3 separate regions of the Homo sapiens genome follow, and regions 2 and 3 are each linked to region 1. The links come from fine-mapping of genetic effects on gene expression. A gene starts in region 1. Each other region holds a variant in brackets. All regions are shown on one strand. Distances are from middle to middle.

Region 1 (4,185 bases):
CTATGTGTCCATGCGTCACCTGCTTTTGAAAGGGCTTCCCTCTTTTTCAGCTGTCGCTTCCTGCTCAGGCCCAGAGTGTGAGCATAAACGTAGCACCCCATCTTAATCCCATTTTACTGTCAGGATGAAAGACTTCTTGCCCATCAGGGCCCCTTGCTCCACAATCTGCATTTTTACCAAATCCAGAGGGGTTTTTAAAGGTTTTTTGTTGTTGTTGTTTTTGTTGTTCTAACTTATGGATGTCTCTTCTTCTCTGCTTGACATGTTAAAAATCCTCTCTCTCTCTCTTTCTTTCTCTCTCTCTCTCTCTCTCAAAAAAGTGGGCTGGGCATCTTTTGGACACAACCATTTCAGTTCCAGGCTGGAGCACTGATGCTGGGCTGAATCCACTTGGCGTTCCCTGCCCAGGAGTGGTCTGAGAGAGGCTGTGTTTCTCTGCTGCCACCTGCCACCTCCCAAGAGAGGCCAAGTGTTAGGATCTGACTACACCTCAGTTTCCTGACTCTCAGATATTCTAAAGCCAATCCCAGAATGGCACTTGAAGTGACAGGGAAATTCCCAGTGGCCTAAGGACAGCCAGGATTGGCCTAGGGCCAGTAGCAAGTGGTTTGAGAGTCCAAGGAGGTCTTCACACTCTGTCCCCGCCTGCTGGTGGGAGGGCAAAATGCCAGTCTGGAGACAAGGCCATAATGGCGACGGGGGTAAAAATCTCCCTGGGGCCAAGGGAAGGTGGAACGTGACGGGAAGTCGGGAAAACTGCCTTGTATAGGCATGTTCTTTTCTTCCATTTTTTTCGTCCAAGTTTTTACTCCAAGCGACAGTGCCACCCGAAGGCGACCGGCCTGTTTGTGGTTGCGCCTGGGGCAGGCGGTGACACCGGCATACCCCTTCCCCCATCTTGCCTGCAAGTTGCATGACCTGCATCGGAATCCACAGGGGGGCGGGGGAGACTCCTTTCAGATACTGGATGCAGTTGAATTGAATTCAATGTATTTTGCTTCCTCGCCTGCCCTCCTCCAAGCTCGGGAAGGAGAACCCTGCTTTCTTCTGCGTGTGAATGCTGTAGTGTGTCTGCCTGCTCGGACTCCCCTAACCCTTTCTTCTCCTTTCCCACAGCGAATGCTCGTTTTTTTTTTTTTCAGCAAACAGCTCACACTTGGCATCTTTATGTTTTATTAAGAAAAAAATCCCTACCAGCGCAAAAGCGGGGCCCCCCCCACACACACTTCTTTCCCGGATGAGATCTGAGCTCTCGTCGAAAGCTGCACCTGCTTTGCGTCCCTACCAGGAAGGGGTGCTTGTGTGGGAGGGAAGGAGGAGGTTCTGCGCCCCCGAATCCGGAGAAAGCAGCCCGCCCGCCCCCTCACCCGGCAGCCAGCTCAGCTCACCCGAGAGCTGAGCCCGAGAAGCCGGCCTCTGACGGTGCTGGCGTGGCGCTTGCCAAAATATGCCCCTTGCATCTCAATTTCCCCCGGCCATTTCTCTTGCACGCACAGCTCGCCCGGGGCCACCTCGGCTCTCCAGCGCAGCCCTTTCGACCCCTGTTTCTTCCTTCCCCGATCCATGCCTGCTCAAGGCCGAATGCAAAACCCACCTCCAAGAAAGCGCAGCGGGCACGGGGGGCACCTAGCGTGCCATGTCCCGCAGTCCCCTCCCAGCCAAGACCAGAGCCCCAGACTCTAGATTACGGAAATGAGTGTCATTCAGACCAAGGACTGCGCGTCTGCGGTCCCGGTCCCCGGCTCTGGGTGCTTCTCTGGGGTGTCTGTGCGCTCCGGCACCCCCCGTCGCCGTCCGTGAGCCTGCGCCCCCCACCCACCCAGGCTTGGGAGCGCCCCCCACCCAAGGCTTGGGAGCACTCCCCAATCACCTCCGCCACGTTCATTTCACTTCCTACCGCGGTCCGGATTGCAGCAAAACCGGGTAGCGCGAGGGCCAAAAAGTGGAAAGGAGAGCGCCTTTCCGTGTCGTGCAGCCAGCTCGCCAACTCTCCCTCCCCAGCCCCGACCCTCGCAATCTCAAATGCAACTTTTTCCCTTCGGTCTCGGTTTCCCCCGGGCTGCGGCTAGCGGGCGCCGCGCTGCGAGGCGTGGAGCGGGCGGGCTGCCGCGAGGCTGCGGGTGGCGGTGCCGGCTACAGCCGCGAGCCGGCGAGTGGGTGGGTGGGTGGGTGGGGAGGAGGGAGAGGACAGGCGGGGAGAGAGACGGGTGTGGGGAGGGGAGGGAGGGGGAGATTCCGCTCTCCTGCCGCTCCCAGCCCGGGCGGGGGGCGGGGGGAGGAGGCCGCGACGAGGGAGGGGAGGAGGGAGGGAGGAAGGGAGGGAGGGAGCCGAGGAAGACGCTCCGATAACCCGTGCGTTTCGTAAGGCTCGGAGCACTTGTACATTTCTGCAGCCGCGCGGCGAGCCATTCGCGGCGGCTGCTGCAGCTCCTACTGCATCTTCCTTCTCTTCCTTTCCTCGGGCTCCGGGTGTGTGTATGTGTGAGAGTGAGTGTGTGTGTTTTGCAGGTGCGTGGTGTGTCCGTTTTAATTCTGCCCAGTAGGTGGGACTTGGTGACTTTAGCACCATTTTTTCCTTTTCCTTTTTTTTTTTTGCCTCCCCACCGTCTGTTGCAACCCTGCAAAGTCTCGGAGTCGGAGAGCGCGCCTCGCTTCCAGAGCCCCCGGACCCGGCGAGTCAGCGATCGCCGAGCCGGCCACCATGCCCGGCAGACCGCGCCACTAGGCGCTCCTCGCGGCTCCCACCCGGCGGCGGCGGCGGCGGCGGCGGCGTCCGCGATGGTTTCAGACGCTGAAGGATTTTGCATCTGATCGCTCGGCGTTTCAAAGGCAGAGGCCCCCCCTCCCCCTTCCCCCCTCCCTCGCCGTCTTTGTTTCCTTCCCCCCCTGCTCTCCCCACTCCCCCCACCCCACCCCCCTCTCCTCTCCTCCTCCTCTTTTTTAGAAGCAGCGATCGGAGATGGATGTCTCTCTTTGCCCAGCCAAGTGTAGTTTCTGGCGGATTTTCTTGCTGGGAAGCGTCTGGCTGGACTATGTGGGCTCCGTGCTGGCTTGCCCTGCAAATTGTGTCTGCAGCAAGACTGAGATCAATTGCCGGCGGCCGGACGATGGGAACCTCTTCCCCCTCCTGGAAGGGCAGGATTCAGGGAACAGCAATGGGAACGCCAGTATCAACATCACGGACATCTCAAGGAATATCACTTCCATGTAAGTCAGGCGGCCGCTCCCCAGCCTGCCTCCCCCGCGCTCTGCGTCTCCCTCCTGCCCACCCGCGGCCGGGAGCCGGCCCTCCGCCCGCCCCAGCTCGCCGCTGCCCGCCGCCCGCTGGGCGCGCGTCAGGCTCGCTCTGGCTCGGGAGATGCTCTCCGGCTGCGCATTCCAGGTGACTCCGGCCCTGGCGAGGCGCGATCCGGCTATGCGTGTGTGTGCCTCTCCCCGGAGAGGACCCCGGCCGCCGAGGGCACGCGGGGCCCAGCTACCGCCCGCCTCCCAACCAGTTGCTGGCTCGTTTCGATGGTGCAAATTGTTTTTTTTTGCTCCCCACTAAATAGCAACAGTTTGGCCACGCTCAAGTGGAATAAAGTAGACGAGGTTCGATTCTTTGGCAGAGGCGGCAGCGGCGGTGGCAGCGGCGGCAGCGCTTAGCCGGCAGGGAAGGTGACAGATAGGGACTGCTCGCGATCCAGCCGAGGTGTTTAACTATTTCCATTTGGAAACAGCAAAACATGCTGACAAGTAAACAAGTTGCGAGCTGGCTGCTCGCGGGGAGACTTTGGACGTGTGGAGGCCGTCATGGACGCCTACCTCTTCCCTTCCCCTCCTGCAGCCCGCCCTCTCCAGCCCCATTTTGGGCATTTCCGAGACACCCCTTTGCCACCCTCATCTGCATCTGGGCGCCTACAGATCCCTTCCCAGTTTGGGCTTTGATAACTGCTCGGAACTATTCCGAGTCAGGATGGCGCAGGGAGAGGAGAGGGCGTGTGTTTTGAGGAGAGGGGTTTCTTGTGTGATCGTGCGGATCGGTTCATTTGGAACATTCAACTCTGGCTGGCTTTTGCTTGGTTCTGCCCCCTCCGAGGGAGACCAGTGGTGGCCTGCTCTTTTCTCCTTGCTATTTTTCTTTGGTGGGGATGGCAGCAGACGCAAAGGAGAGGACAGATCGAGGGCTGGGGACTGGAGAGTCTG
Region 2 (4,185 bases), 280 kb after region 1:
CACATTTGTAGGGCCTGAAACTCTCCCGTATTTGCTGACTCATTGGTGGAGTAGACTTCTGGCTCCCAGCTCCACTGGCCCATGGGGCCTCCATTGTATGAAGTCAGCATAGGCTGCCCACCTAATGGTGGAGAGCATGAAACTGGGAGCATCCTGTGGGGGGCTTGTGGGGGAAAAAGGTGGTTGTTTTAACCCACCGTTGTTTTGGGGTGGTGTTGCACACTAGTAGAGAATAGAGTCTATGCCTTTGGCAAATTTAACTGGGAGTTTGGATTCCCACTTAAGGGTTTTACTTCTTGGGTCCTGTGGATGGTGGTTCTTCGTGTCAGGATCCCAGCCCGATTCTGCAAATGCCTCCATGGGGTTTAAAAACATGAGGCTTTCCAAGTTCTTGCCCAGTATCTGGGGCAGCCTCCAGAGTATCACCTGGGAGTTCAGGTTCTCTCCAGGGCTCCAGGTGTGTGTTTATCTCGCCCCCTCCAGCTCTCCTCATCCTGCTCCCCATTGCTCCATGTCAGGCTGTTCCCCATTGTGCCCTGCTGATGCTTTGGGTCCAGGGCCTCCTCCCAAGTGTGGCTTTAAGGAGTAAGCTTGAGGATGATGTTTTTTAATTATTGTAAATCATTACCTCATTTCCAGCCTCCCAGGCTCCATCCATCCCAGCATCTTTTATTCTGCCATTTTCCTCACCTTGTGCTATGACAATGGGGCGTTGTGTTTCCACAGAGACTTATAGGAGTGTTCAGTGTATAGTTTCTTAATAAACACTTTATTTTCTAATGAAATGACTGAATCAGACCTCTTATTTGGAAATTTTGCAAAAACATTCAAAATACAGAAATTCCAGGTTACCTGCATTTTTTCCTGTTTTCCTGTTACTCTTTTAAAGAAGTTTCTTAGTTAAGTTCTTTGTTTACAAAGGTGTTCACAATCTGTTCCATTGGTTGCTTTCATTGAGAGTCTTCCAGATAGCTTAGGCTCATACAGTAAAGTGCTTTTTCATCGTATTGAGAAAGAATTAGAGGCTCAGAGAGGTTGAATGGTTCATCCAGGGTCACACAGTGTGAGAGGTGAAAGCAAGATTCAAATCTGACTTCTACAGACACTACTCAGGCCACTGAGACCCTCACTCCTTTGGTAGCTGGGGAATGTTCTGTTGTCTGAGCAGCCAAGGCTCACAGAAATCTTCTCTTGAGAGCTGATATATGGGGGTCTGAGAGTGGGGTTGGGGATCCTTTATCTTTGGTGCACCAGCAAAGCCAGTGGGGCTGTCCCTAGGATGGAGTGGTTTTGTATGTTCCCTGTGGATGTTGGGAAAGTGACCTTGCCCAAGGAAAGACGGGGCTTTGGGCGTACAGGTCAACACACTTGTCATTCAGAGACACACTCCCTTTCATGCACACACTCAGGTGAGCCACACTCTCATGGCAAGTTTCATGTGGGCTGCCAGGAGGGAGAGGCCAAAGAGTAAAATGCTTAGATGAACTGGCACATCTGTGCACCCTTGGACCCTGGCAGTGACACAGCTAGAAGAGTTGAAATGCTCCCTGTAACTTGCCCTCTTCCTTTCAGGAGGAGAGGACACCGTGAGGCCCTGTATGCAGGAGAGATGGAGCAAGAGTGGAGAATGCGGGCCGGGAAAAGGCTCCTGGGTGGATCTGAATGCTTCACTGGGCCCCAGTAATCCCTGATGGAGCTCAGTCATTGAGGCAGTAGAGATGAGACAAGTAAAGTAATGTGGAAGAGCTCACGTTCCAGTCTGACAGGAAGTTGATCAGGCTAGGTTGGTGCTTTTCTATATACCCTCAGTTGCTTTATCTTCTATTTAAGTCTAGTTTGGTTTGAGACCCCCTTATGCCAAATGGAAGCTCCTGCTCTCTAGAGTGGCCTGGGTGAGGGGTAGACCAAGCTCGGCATTTATCTCTTCTTGAGGGTTCCAAGGAGAAAGAGTTGGAACAGGGATGCCTGAAGGGTTGAGGCTGTCCTGGGGACCATGAGGACATGCACTGGTTCGAGGGAGAACTTTCATTTTTAATATAGGAGAGATTTGAGCTTTCTTTTTTTCTGATGCTTGGAGCCTATCAGTGTATGGGAGAAGAGATAATAGATAAAGATGGCCCCTGAGAATATGGGAAGGAAAAGTATCCACAGCTCAGGAGGAAG[G/A]GATAGCATTGGCCTCATGGAGGGAGTGCTCTTCCCATAGAGCAGGAGGCAAAAAGAGGAAAGGATGTGGAATGTCTTTTCAAGGTGATAGGGCAAGGAAGTGAGGGAGTTCTTGTCTGGTGGCTTCCATTTTTCCTATAAAGAATGAGGCAAGGCCTTGTGCTGCTAGTGAGAAGACCCAAGGAGAGTTGGAACATCTGAATTGACGGGGAAGAGACTATGGACGACTATGGGGATCTATGGAAAGGTTGCTGGGCAGAATGAGGAACCAGCTGCGATTGGAGTCTAGGCCTCCGTTTTCCATGTTTTACTGCTAGGTGTTGAAGTCTCATGGCATTTACCCCAGGGTTGGTGCCTCTAGGGAAGTCAGAGCTGGTATAGGGCAGATGCGGAGAGCTGAACTCAGCCCAGAAAGATGCCAGTTTGGACTGGCCTCAGCTTAGGGTGGCTCAGGGAACCAGCCAGTCCTGCAGCTCCCTGACCTCCTGCATTCGAATGTCACCAACAGGATTTCACAGTAGCTTTGTCAGACCTTAAGCTTACATTTTGATCCTGCGGGATTTTGCTGCACAGATTGACAGCTGACTCAGTTCACGAACCCAGGGTGCTTGCCAGGCGCTCCCTGGATCTTCATTCTAGAGACTTGGTTGACAGGTGCTGGTTCTGAAGCTCAGAGAATGAGAAACTCAACTGTACCAATAAGATCTTGTAGAAACAAGGTGAAATTCGATCTAACACATTCCAGGGACATGCCCTGGAGAGGCTGGACTTTTTTACTAGCATTACATGATGAGGTCCTGGAACTGGTTGCCAACCTCCCAAGAATGGGTTTACTGTGGGGCATTAATAGTAATAATTCTATGTAACTTATGAAGCACTTACTCAGAACCAGTCAGATTTTACCCACAAGGAAGCTGAAGCTCAGAAAGATTGAATAACTAGCTCAGGTTTCCACAGCTTGAAACTGGCAGAACCAGGACTGACAGGGGGACTGCCTGACACCTCAAAATGCTTTTGGCCACTCTGCAGCCCCCTAAAGTAGCACATCTTCTGCTCCTGGAAGGCTATGATTGTGAAACACCACCTAGGTGCTCCCCCCTCCAACCCCACTCCACTCCTAAGACAGAGAAGTCTTTCAGGGGTCTTCAGGGATGAGCACCATCCCTGACTTCCTTCTGGAACTTTTGGGACAGGGTGATTTTAAAGACTGGAAAAGAACATCTGCAACGTTCTTTCCTCTCATTGTAGCATTTAGTGACTTGGGGGTGTATGAAAGCATGGTTGGGCTTAGATCTGAGATTAATCACATGTCTTACAGTTGGTGAGATTCCCAAGCAATGATGGCCTTTTTGATATTGGGGAGGACTCATCATACAGTTGGATGAGACCAACCTGATCCTTAGGATAGCAGTTAGGCTGCCCAGGTCTGGGCAAGGGTGAGAAGCTTCAGATAGGAAGGTGGTAGAAGAAAGGATGAGACCAACCTGATCCTTAGGATATCAGGTTAGGCTGCCCAGGTCTGGGCAAGGGTGAGCAGCTTCAGACAGGAAGGTAGTAGAAGAAAGGGCCTTGTCTGACTACCCACTGTCACTTAACCTTTCTTCAACGCACCTCAAAGACCTCCTGATATGTCCAAGCTCAGCCATGCAATGCTCACCCTAAAAAGACCAAACACAAATCAGGCTCAATTTGGAAGTCAAGAATCTGACCTCTAGCCACCTCTGTCTCTTCTTTTGTGCGGGAATCCCTTTCTGCAGCCAAGCTCCCAGCAGCCACATCCTCACCTCCACCTCCCCAGCCACAGGTGTGACCGCAGCACAGCACTGGGCTGTGACACATCCCCTGGCTCGTCCCAGTTCCCTCAGGTCAAGACCAGGCATGAGCAAAGGATCAAGCATCTCAGATACAATGGTGAGGCAGCAAGGGAGGGTTGGATGCCGCGGGAAAGCTCAGGAGCGGGCAGATCAATGCAGGACGACTTCATTGTTGTGTAGCTTTCTGCACGGAGCCAGACATGGATTA
Region 3 (4,185 bases), 120 kb after region 1:
GGGATACAGTGTAAAAACTGATAAGACACATACACACATGCACATGCATGCTCACACACGTGCACAAAGGGAAAAGGCAGAAAGAGCTAGCAGTATGTAGCATCTGTTTTTATGAAGTCAACTTCACAGTCTACAAATTACCAGGGTGTGGCAGCTCCAGGAAGCTTTATTTATGTCAGTGCAAGGGAACTCGTACTGGAGGCCCTGAGAGTAAAGTCGGAGAAATGTGGCTGCATTAAGCTAAATTCTTGCCGTTGAGGTCCCAGGGATGATGGAGCCGTCTTTTCGGAGGCAGTTGAGAATGTGCAGATGTTTGAGGCCCTGGAAATCCCATGTAGTCTGAAACTTCCATCATCCCCAGAATGCTCAGTAAAAGCCCCCATGACACTTCCCCTCCTGGGTCACACTGTGCTCTCTTTCAGCAGGTAGATGAGTCCTGGCCTGCACAGTGGAAGAAGAGGCTTTTAGAGCAGAGATATTTTGCTCTTATGGTCTACAAGGGCAGGCTAGGTCTTGTTGACATAAAAGACTGAAACGTTGCCCTGCCTGTGGCCTGATTAGAGAATAAATTCTGTTTTTAAAGAGGAAAGTCTATACATTGTTGAGGGAAAGTCTTGATTGGTGAGGAAATGAAGCACCCTGAAGCAATGTTTCTGTTTCCAAAGAGAAGCTTCTGGGGCCTAGGGAGGGGGGAACCCTAGAATGCTCAGGAGGGAGGAGAAGACACTCTGGCTCCTTCTGCCAGGGGTATCCTGAGAGGTGTGGGGTAGCAGCAGCAGTTGGATGATGTGGTGGATACAGCTTCTCCGTTCTCTCCTTTGTCTCAGGAGGAAGCAATACTTTGCGTCTTCTCAGCCCTCAGAGCTATCTCAGAGATACCTCCTCTGCCCCCACGAGATGCAGCAGCCCCTTCTGTTAGTCTCTGGATACCCTTGTCACCATAGTCAGTTATCAGTGCTCCTCAGGCCAGTGGTTCTCAAAAGTGACCTTTGGTCCATGGACCAGCCCCATCCACCTCACCTGAGAATGTGTTAAAACTTAAGTTCTCAAGCGCCACTCACATCTACGGAATCAGAGATTCCAGGGTGGGGTCTAGCAGCTATGTTTTAACAAGCCCCCAGGTGACTCCAGTACTCCCTCCTTTGCAATCTACTACCCTGGAATTGAGTGGGAATCTGGCCCCAGGAGGATGGAGGGAGGATAGAGTCACAGAGAAACTCAAAGAGAAAGCACCTCACCTGAGGTCATTTCCTCAGACCCATCTCCATCCTGCTAGGGTCACCCTGTGGGAAGATTTGCTTGTTTTGTGAGTCTAGGTTAAAGGGATCAATGGGTGATGAAAAGGCAGTGACAGGGAAACGATGCCAAGTGACAAGATGCTTAAACGCTCAAGAGAGTCAATTATCTGGGGGTGCAGGAAGAGATGAGTCATAGCCCTCTAAACCGAACTCACCCCAGCTAAGCCTAGATGCAAAGCTGGTCTGTGATTCTTGCTCTTCTCTTTTGATGTGAAAGTGTGGAGACATCGTGATTATCATGTGTGTTTCTCTTTTGCTTCCAGGCAGCTAAGCATGGAGGCTAAGAGCAGGCAGTCTGAAATCAGACAGACTTAGGTGCAGGTCCCATCTGTGGCCCCTCCCAGATAGCCCTCCCATCTGGTGGCCTGGGCTCCTAGCATGGGGCTTAGTGCAAGGCCAGTACTAGATGGAGGACAATCACTTCTCTGTGCCTCTATTTCTGTATCCATGAAATGGGAATGATAATATCTCCCATCTAAGCTACCATGAGACTTAAAGGAAGTTATGCCTGCCAAGTGCATAGCAGTGCGTCTGGACAGAGAAAAGGCTTACTAGCTGTGGGCCATTGTTAAGATTCTTAGGATGTAGAGCTGAGATGAATTCAAGAGTTCTAGAACCAGTAGTCATTTTCTGGTCAACCTAGTAAGTTCTAACAGATAATGTTAAGGTAGTCTAGGCTAGTTGTCATGGAACCACGTTGCCAGGGCTCTGACTCTGACTCAATCACTTGTCAGCTCTGTGACGTCAGGCAAATTGCTTCACCTTCCTGCTTTTACCTTAAAGGTTGTGGTGAAGATTAATTTACAGAAGGGGCGCTTCTTGAAGAGTTATGGTCTGGGACTGTAGGAGACATGTGTATTCCCTTCATGGCACAGCCCCAGTTCATGTCCAGATTGTTCCTTGGTGTGCTGGACAAGCGCTCCTCCCAGCCTGCTGGTGCAGTCAGAGGTGAGGACCAGTCCTGGGTACCATCCTCTTCCAGGCTGAATGCCTGAACCCTCCCACAGGTTAGAGAGGAGTCAGGATGTCTCCTTCTTCCAAAGCTTATGTGCTTTCTGGATGTATAAATGCTTCCAGGC[C/T]CTGGCAAAGGCCTTAAACACTCATAGGCTGATTTGGAGATAACAGGGTTCACAGACTTGACCAAAACATTTGGCTAACGTGAGAATATTCTCTAATAAATGGGAGCCTTATGAGACATATGCAAATGAATGTAAACTGCGAATTGATCTGGCACCTCTCTTCTCTCAGGCTCTGAAACCCAGGCTAGAGCTTCCATTTCCTCCATCCTCCCCCTGCCCCAGTCAGGCTTCTGGTCACCTGCTGTTGAGAAGAGGGTGTTGGCACGAAGGGTATGCCCAGGAATGTGAAGATAGTTCTGTGACCATCCCCCAAAACAATACAGAACAGACAACAAACAAGCAACCGAACTGCGTGTACCATAAGTAAGGCTTTCTTTGAAGGACTCCATCACAGAAAGTATCCGATTCCCCACAAGTAGTTAGAGAATATCTGCTGGTTCATACTTAATAGAGCTAAGACTGTGAGGGCCCGCAATGAGTGAATGAATGGGTGAATGAATGAATGAATACACTTTTACTTTTCAGGGCATGGTGGGCTGAGGCAGGAGGCTGTGTAGTATTGATATAGTGCATTCCAAAGGGAACAGCAGCATCAGCGTCTGCTGAAAACTTGTTAGAAATGCAAAATCTTGATACCCACCCCAGGTCTACTGAATTAGAAACTCTAAGGTGAGGACTAGTAATCTGTGTTTCTTTTTAATTTTTAAAGATTTTTAACTTTTCATTTTGAAATAGTTTGGAATTCATATTTTAAAAAGTTACAAAATCATACAAGGCACTTCCTTCCACCCTTTGTCCAGCTTCCCCAGATGTTAACATCTTACCTAACCACGATGCAATGATCGAAACCAGGTTGTTAACATTGGTCCATCACTATTATCTAGTGTACAGATGTGAATTACATTTCATCACTTGTCCCATTGATGCTTTTTCCTTGTCTAGGATCCAATTCAGAATTACACACTGCGTTGAGTTCCTGTGTCATCTCACTCTCTTTAAATCTGGGACAGTTCCCTAGTCTTTGTCTTTCATGATCTTGGAACTTTGCAAGAATACTAGTTTTTTTGTAGACTGTCTTTCCATTTGGAATTTTCTGATTTTTTTCTTAATGATTAATTTCTAGCTATGCATTTTTGGCAGGAACTCTGCAGAAGTGATGCTCTGCCCTCTCAGTGCATCGTTTCGGGGGCGCGTGATGTCGATAGGTTTTGGTACTGGGGGTGTTGACTTTATTACTTGGTCAAGGTGGTGTCTGCCAGGTTTCTCTGCTGCAAACAGATGATTTTCCCCTTTGTAAGAAATCAGTATAATATTTTTAAACTACATAAATAGCTTGTTTCTCATCCTTCTTTCACACTCTAACATTCATTGATGATTCTTGCCTGAAACAATTATTACTGTAATATTTGTGAAATGGTGATTTTTCTATTTTTATCATTCCTTCTACATTTAAAAATCAGAATTCTCTTGTAAGGAAGAGCATTTCATTCTTCCACCTTTTATTTATTGAATTGTTTATTTGTATCAATATGGACTCATGGATATTTATTTTGTTCTATGGCTGGTAATTCATGTATTCGTTTGCTAGGAATGTCACAGCAGTGAAATACCATAGACTGGGTGGCTTAAACAACAGAAATTTATTTCCTCACAATTCTGGAGGCTGGAAGCCTGAGATAAAGGTGTTGGCAGGGATGGTTTCTCCTGAGGCCTGTCTGCTTGGCTTGCAGATGGCAGTGTTCTCTTTGTGTTGTCATGTGATTTTCCCTCTGTGCGTGTGTGTTGACGTTCAAATTTCCTCTTATAAG

What was found. PIP is the estimated chance that this variant, and not a neighbour inherited with it, causes the effect.
Region 2: its variant is the best candidate, but not a certain one, in a credible set for the expression of NTRK3 in nasal epithelium (TOPMed, PIP 0.88).
Region 3: its variant is the best candidate, but not a certain one, in a credible set for the expression of NTRK3 in atrial appendage (GTEx, PIP 0.59).

What each region holds. Positions count from the first base shown.
Region 1 is chr15:88,254,928-88,259,112 of GRCh38, reverse strand. NTRK3 (neurotrophic receptor tyrosine kinase 3) reads left to right here and starts at 2,374. Exons shown (of 20, transcript NM_001012338.3): 1 at 2,374-2,469; 2 at 2,627-2,829; 3 at 2,945-3,207. The coding sequence starts at 2,960. The region is part of intron 1 of NTRK3-AS1 (NTRK3 antisense RNA 1); the gene reads right to left. RefSeq lists enhancers at 521-815, 3,156-3,692, 3,693-4,185.
Region 2 is chr15:87,973,964-87,978,148 of GRCh38, reverse strand. The region is part of intron 14 of NTRK3 (neurotrophic receptor tyrosine kinase 3); the gene reads left to right. Among named protein-coding and RNA genes, the nearest start is that of MIR11181, 30 kb to the right of the region's middle. The variant G/A (reference allele first, on the strand shown) is at 2,164.
Region 3 is chr15:88,129,952-88,134,136 of GRCh38, reverse strand. All of the region lies in intron 10 of NTRK3 (neurotrophic receptor tyrosine kinase 3), which reads left to right. Among named protein-coding and RNA genes, the nearest start is that of NTRK3-AS1, 120 kb to the left of the region's middle. The variant C/T (reference allele first, on the strand shown) is at 2,378.